2 linked regions of the Homo sapiens genome follow. The protein of the gene in region 1 purifies or fractionates together with the protein of each later gene. This does not show direct contact. Each region holds a gene or a part of one and is shown in the gene's direction. Other genes may lie near its edges.

Evidence for each region. The genes of interacting proteins can lie anywhere in the genome.
Region 2: the proteins of UGT1A6 (region 1) and CYP3A4 purify together in Homo sapiens (affinity purification with western blotting; one study listed by BioGRID). This does not show direct contact.

Annotation. Positions count from the first base shown.
Region 1 is NC_000002.12:233,691,449-233,695,689, forward strand, and holds the start of UGT1A6 (UDP-glucuronosyltransferase 1A6 isoform 1 precursor), read left to right. Parts: upstream 1-1,441; 5' UTR 1,442-1,556; coding exon 1,557-2,417; intron 2,418-4,241.
Region 2 is NC_000007.14:99,767,185-99,770,684, reverse strand, and holds part of CYP3A4 (cytochrome P450 3A4), read left to right. Parts: intron 1-449; coding exon 450-563; intron 564-828; coding exon 829-917; intron 918-2,182; coding exon 2,183-2,331; intron 2,332-3,426; coding exon 3,427-3,500.

The DNA of each region.
Region 1 (4,241 bases):
CCTGGGCCCCAGAACACCTCCGGTGCCAAACTTGTGGGTGGGAACAGGAACTCGCGTGCCAGCCAGGTGTGCATGACTAGCTCTGGGCAAGTCTGTTCTAGTAATTCAAGGTACCACCTCTCACTGGGACAGCCTAGTTTCTACACAGGTCTTGCTCTGGGACCGCCCTCAGCAGTGTGGTTAGCAGGCAGGGCCAGTGTGACCCTCCCTTTCTGGGCCTCAGTTGAGAAACCTGAAGCTCAGGAGAGGAGTCACTCCCCTGGCAGATGGGTGGCTGGGCCAGAAGCAGATACCAGGCTTTCTGACTCCTGCTCTAGGATTCTCACCACGTACTGGCTAGACTTATACTTCTCAAATCTTAATTTCCTAAAGGCAAGTAACAGTTTGAATGTTGTTATATTGTGATGTATAATAAGAAATATATGTTTGTCTTTGTTTCCTGGACACAGCTCCTGAAACCATAAGTGGTGGGAGCGATAAACGTGAACAAAGAATCTTTTGTTATTCAAAACAGATCCCTTTCGATCACACCTAAGTTTATGTAAAGGAGATGTAAAGTCTCTAAGGATGAGGGCTAGTTGCCAGGGAACAAAACCCTTGCGATTAGAGGGAAGAAAGGAGAGAGAGATTGAAGATTGATTTGATCACCGATGGGCAACAATCTAATCAATCATGCCTACTATGTATGGAAGCCTACATAAAAACTCAGAAGGGCAGGGTTCAGAGAGCTTTCAGGTTGCTGAAGGTGTGGAGGGTGGGGCACCCAGAGATGGCAGATGGGGCTCCATGGCCATACCCCCATATCTTGTTCTTTGTACTTTTTCCTCTGGCTATTCATCCGTATTGTTTGCAATATCCTTTGTAATAAACCAAACCTAGTAAATAAACTGTTTTCTTCAGTTCTGTGAGCCATTCTAGCAAATGATTGACTCCAAGAAAGAGGGTGTGTGAACCTCTGATTTTTGCCAAGTCAGACAGAAGTTGTGGGTAACCTGGGGACCTACTACTTGCAATTGGTGTCTGAAGTGAGGGCAGTCTTGTAGGACTGAGCCCTTAACCTGTGGGGTCCGTGCTAACTCAGAATTCAGTTCAGAATGGAATTGAATTGTAGGATACCCAGCTGGTGTTAGAGAATAGGTCCGTGTGCAAGAAAAATTCCCGCACATCATGGACATAACAGACAACGTCAATGATGAGGAATCCAGCAAGTTCGGGATAGAGAATTGGCAGGGGGTCCTCAGGGGTCTCTCCAAGTCATCTTCAAAGTGTTGCTATAACTTTTCAGAGAGGGAGAAGCAGACTTGTGGAGCTGAAGAGAAACACCCAGAAGCTCAGGTGAAAGCTGACACGGCCATAGTTGGTTCATATTAACCATGTGATTAAAATGGTTAAATATTAATTTGGGTTCTTACATATCAAAGGGTAAAATTCAGAGCAAGGGAGAGGTAGACAGGACCTGTGAAAAGCAGTGGTTAGTTTAGGGAAAATACCTAGGAGCCCTGTGATTTGGAGAGTGAAAACTCTTTATTACCGTTGTTACTTTAACTCTTTCCAGGATGGCCTGCCTCCTTCGCTCATTTCAGAGAATTTCTGCAGGGGTTTTCTTCTTAGCACTTTGGGGCATGGTTGTAGGTGACAAGCTGCTGGTGGTCCCTCAGGACGGAAGCCACTGGCTTAGTATGAAGGATATAGTTGAGGTTCTCAGTGACCGGGGTCATGAGATTGTAGTGGTGGTGCCTGAAGTTAATTTGCTTTTGAAAGAATCCAAATACTACACAAGAAAAATCTATCCAGTGCCGTATGACCAAGAAGAGCTGAAGAACCGTTACCAATCATTTGGAAACAATCACTTTGCTGAGCGATCATTCCTAACTGCTCCTCAGACAGAGTACAGGAATAACATGATTGTTATTGGCCTGTACTTCATCAACTGCCAGAGCCTCCTGCAGGACAGGGACACCCTGAACTTCTTTAAGGAGAGCAAGTTTGATGCTCTTTTCACAGACCCAGCCTTACCCTGTGGGGTGATCCTGGCTGAGTATTTGGGCCTACCATCTGTGTACCTCTTCAGGGGTTTTCCGTGTTCCCTGGAGCATACATTCAGCAGAAGCCCAGACCCTGTGTCCTACATTCCCAGGTGCTACACAAAGTTTTCAGACCACATGACTTTTTCCCAACGAGTGGCCAACTTCCTTGTTAATTTGTTGGAGCCCTATCTATTTTATTGTCTGTTTTCAAAGTATGAAGAACTCGCATCAGCTGTCCTCAAGAGAGATGTGGATATAATCACCTTATATCAGAAGGTCTCTGTTTGGCTGTTAAGATATGACTTTGTGCTTGAATATCCTAGGCCGGTCATGCCCAACATGGTCTTCATTGGAGGTATCAACTGTAAGAAGAGGAAAGACTTGTCTCAGGTTGGTGGGTTTATTTCTTTTGGACTGCCTTGTTTCTTCCAGGCTCTGTCCTCCCTCACTCATTTGGCTCCTTGAGCCGACTGTCCCTTGGAGGATTTCCTGGAGAAACGGTGGGGGGAAGTGATACCCGGCTCGGAGCAGCGGGAACACATAGGAGACCTGAGGCTGAAGTGATACAGAGGCATTCGGATGAAGACAGGGCTCATGCTTGGCAAGAGTAGGAGATTTGCTTAGTTGGATAATCTGGGACAGTCACATACTCATTGAATGAGCCTTAGAAATGTCCCAGTTCAAACAGAGGTGAAGGCTTGACTAAGGGAACAGGTCCAGGTTAAAATCCATTTTCCCAACTCTGTCCCATGCTTTGTCTCTGGACCTTGAGCCAGGGACCAGCGAACTACAGCCTGTGAGCCCAATCTGCCCAAAGGCCTGTTTTTTGTTTTTTTTTTTCCTTTTATGTTGAGACCTGTTTTTATATGGCCCAGAGCTAAGAATGGTTTTTGTAGTTTTAAAACAATTTAACAATGAAGAATATGTGCCACAGAAGTATTTGGTCTGCAAAGCCTACACATTTACTGACTGGCCTTTTCAGCAAAAGGGGTATGGCCTCTGACCTAAGACAAGTGTTTACAGATGCCCTCCTGACATGTAGGAAAAGGGCCCAGAGTTACTTTGGAAAATAAAAATCTGTGAGTTTTAAATTTCAATGTAAATATTTACAACTTTGAAGGGCTTCAGGCAACTCCCTCTATCTTTTATGCCTCAATTTTCTTTTCCAGTTCCTTTTTTATCAGAGAGAAAGCCTCAAACAGGTCCCAAAGACCCTTACCTCTCTTCTTTACACCTGCTGATTTCTCTGTTAACAATTTGAACAGTTGGCAGTAGCCACTGTGAAAAGGCAAGGGTGAGGGGATGGGGATAACTGAAATGGTTCCAGGGATTCTGGGGCATGAAATAAAAACATAGAATGTCAGGATTCTTTTAATTGGGACATAATATAGTTGTACACATTTGGGGGGTTCATGTGATATTTTGATACACGTATACAATGTGCGATGATCAAATCAGGGTAATTGAGATATCCATCACCTTGAACATTTATTCCTTCCTTATGTTGGGAACATTCCCATTCTTCATTTCTAGCTATTTTGAACTGCAGTATACATTCTTGTTAACCATAGTCACCCTACTGTGCTATCGCACTTTGGACTTACTCATTCTATCTAATGGTGTTTTTGTGCCCATTAACCAACCCTTTTCTTTTCTTTTTTTTTTTTTTGAGACAGAGTCTCACTCTGTCATCAGGCTGGAGTGCAGTGGTGCGATCTCAGCCCACTGCAACCTCCACCTCCTGGGTTCAAGCGATTCTCCTGCCTCAGCCTCCTGAGTAGCTGGGACTATAGGCATGTGCCACCATTCCCAGCTAATTTTTGCATTTTTAGTAGAGGCGGGGTTTCACCACGTTGGCCAGGATGGTCTCAATCTCTTGACCTCGTGGTCCGCCCACCCCAGCCTCCCAAAGTGCTGGGATTACAGGCGTGAGCTACCGCGCCCGGCCTTCTTCTTCTTCTTTTTTTTTTGATCAACGTGCTTTATTGGCCCTTTAGATGTTTTTCTCTTTTCTATCAAAGTTTTTGGAGTATTACAAATTTTATTTCTTTTTTCTTTTTCTTTTTTAAATTTTAACCAACCATTTTCACCCCCCCTTCCCTACTTACCCTTTCCACCTTCTGGTAATTACCAATGAACTCTCTACCTCCATGAGACCCACTTTTTTAGCTCCACATATAAATGAGAACATGTGGTATTTGTCTTTCTGTGCCT
Region 2 (3,500 bases), on another chromosome or scaffold:
CTTTTTCACGTTGCCCATGCTGCAGGAGAACATAAAGACAGCTTGTCTGAGGCAACATACAATCCACCAAAGTCACCTGCTTGTCTGTCTCCACTCCGTCTCTACACTGCAGAAGTGCTAGGTCTTGATTCTGTTTATTGTACTGGAAGAACACATTCTCTACCACGTGGATAATTTGCATGTAAAAGAAGACTGGGATATAGAGGCTGGAGACGACATCAGGGTCTCCTGAACACTGCCGCCACCCCCCCGCCCCGCCCCACACAAATACATCCCAGGACACTGGGCATCTGGGATAAATCTCTATTGAGCATCTAGCATAGGGCCCATCACCCAGTAGACAGTCACTAAATAGTTGTTGAATAAGTGTTCCTGTTTAACACATTTTCTACAACCATGGAGACCTCCACAACTGATGTAGGACAAAATGTTTCTGCTTTGAACTCTAGCCTTTTGGTCCAGTGGGATTTATGAAAAGTGCCATCTCTATAGCTGAGGATGAAGAATGGAAGAGATTACGATCATTGCTGTCTCCAACCTTCACCAGTGGAAAACTCAAGGAGGTATGAAAATAACATGAGTTTTAATAAGAAACTTAAAGAATGAATCTGGTGGGGACAGGTATAAAATAAGATCACAGTCCCTTTCCAAGGGGTAGTCCACTGAATTTGAGCTGCCTAAAAATGGTCTTTTATCTTTATGTACAGAAAACACATCACAAAATTCATTATAAAATGTCACTTACTGCTCCATGCTGGGGAAAGCCATGTCCTTCTGGGACTAGAGTCTGCACATTTAACTATGGGTGGTGTTGTGTTTTGTGCTTAGATGGTCCCTATCATTGCCCAGTATGGAGATGTGTTGGTGAGAAATCTGAGGCGGGAAGCAGAGACAGGCAAGCCTGTCACCTTGAAAGAGTAAGTAGAAGCGCAGCCATGGGGTTCTGAGCTGTCATGAACCCCTCCAGCTGCCTGCCATGGAGCTGATATTCCTGCTGTTGGGTTATTCCAGTGACCAGACAAAAGGAGGGCTGTGGTAATGCAACTTCAATGGGTCTCCCAAGATGGGGCAGCTCCGATGAGGAGGTGGGGCAGCTGGAGGAAAAGGATCTTCTCCCCTGTGCACAGGGGCCAGGGTTTACATATCCATTAAATTGTCACCTTGGATATTCTAGAAGACTAAATATATCCTTTAGGGGGAAAAAGTGTGATTGTACCAAAGTTTTAAGCATGGAGTGTATGGGATGGTGGAAGGGGAAGGCACTTGGTATCTGTTGGTTGGCAGTGAGTAGGTTGGGAGAGTTATAATGGAGAACTTAGAATAACTTTGATCATTTCATGTTTTTTTCTGAGGATATCAGTAGAATACTAAATATTAAAATTCCTACCATTTCTTTTTCCTCCAGTCTCAAAGAGAGAGGGTGGTAAAAACACTATAGGTAGGGCAAGCCTATTATTTGCTATCTACACTTATGCAGTAAAAACAGGTGTAATCTGAGTTTGTCCTGGGCAGACCAGGGATATGTGGTCACTCACTATAGAAATTTCCAAATCAAATTTTGAGAGATTTTTTTTTAACCAGGACATTATTGGTCATTATATTTTACAAAAATAATTCTGCTGTCAGGGCAACCTCAGCTCACCACAGCTGGGGATAGTGGAATTTTCCAAAGCTTGAGCAGGGAGTATAGAGAATAAGGATGATATTTCTAGGAGCTCAGAACAGGGTACTGTTGCTTTGTAAAGTGCTGAAGAGGAATCGGCTCTGGGCATAGAGTCTGCAGTCAGGCAATATCACCTGTCTTGAGCCCCTTAGGAAGAGTTAATTATTCTACTCTTGTTCTGCTGAAGCACAGTGCTTACCCATCTTGTATCATCCACAATCAATACATGCTACTGTAGTTGTCTGATAGTGGGTCTCTGTCTTCCTATGATGGGCTCCTTGATCTCAGAGGTAGGTCTAATTCAGTTCAGTGTCTCCATCACACCCAGCGTAGGGCCAGCTGCATCACTGGCACCTGATAACACCTTCTGATGGAGTGTGATAGAAGGTGATCTAGTAGATCTGAAAGTCTGTGGCTGTTTGTCTGTCTTGACTGGACATGTGGGTTTCCTGTTGCATGCATAGAGGAAGGATGGTAAAAAGGTGCTGATTTTAATTTTCCACATCTTTCTCCACTCAGCGTCTTTGGGGCCTACAGCATGGATGTGATCACTAGCACATCATTTGGAGTGAACATCGACTCTCTCAACAATCCACAAGACCCCTTTGTGGAAAACACCAAGAAGCTTTTAAGATTTGATTTTTTGGATCCATTCTTTCTCTCAATAAGTATGTGGACTACTATTTCCTTTTATTTATCTTGCTCTCTTAAAAATAACTGCTTTATTGAGATATAAATCACCATGTAATTCATCCACTTAAAATATACAGTTCAGTGATTTGTAGTACATTTGAAGATATGTGTGACCATCATCATTTTAAACTTTAAAACTTTTTTTGTCAATCTAGAGACCTCATACATTTTTAGCTATCAGCCCCCTGTCACAAACCCTGTCATCATATGCAACCACTAATCAACTTTCTGCTTCTATGGATTTGCCTATTCTGGACACTTCATAGAAATGATATTAATTCATCAGGGTTTTTTATTCTCTAGTTCATGAATTTGTACTTTAGTCTGTATCATTTTCTTTCTTCTGCTGGCTTCAGGCTTAGTTTGCCCTTCTTCGTTTACTATGTTGTGGCATGAACATAGATTACTGATTTGTGATTTTTTTGTTCCTCTAAATTTAGACATTACAGCTGTAACTTTCCCTCTGAGCACTTCCTTTGCTAAATCCCATGAGATTGTGGTCTATCACATCTTAGTTTTTGTTCACCTCAAAACAGTTTCTATTTGCCCTTTTGGTTTCTACTTTGACTCATTGGTTACTTAAATGTTTATTATTTAACTTCCACATATGTGTGAGTTTCTCAATTTTCTTTCCCTTATTGATTTTATCTTTATTCCATGATAGGTGACAGAGATATGCTGTGTTATTTCTATCTTGACTACCTACTATTTCTTGAACAGCAAGATTAATTTTGAGCTTCAGATTATGATTTGGGTTATTCTAGGAGACTGTAGTCCAATAGATAAAGGCAAAGAGATTAGGGCATTGAATTTTGTTCCTTTTATCCTTCAAAAGATGCACAAGGGGCTGCTGATCTCACTGCTGTAGCGGTGCTCCTTATGCATAGACCTGCCCTTGCTCAGCCACTGGCCTGAAAGAGGGGCAAAAGTCATAGAAGGAATGGCTTCCAGTTGAGAACCTTGATGTCTTTTACTCTTCTGGTTGGTAGAGAAAACTAGAATTGCTCCAGGTAAATTTTGCACATTCACAATGAATTTCTTTTTCTGTTTTTGTTTTGTTTTTCCTACAGCAGTCTTTCCATTCCTCATCCCAATTCTTGAAGTATTAAATATCTGTGTGTTTCCAAGAGAAGTTACAAATTTT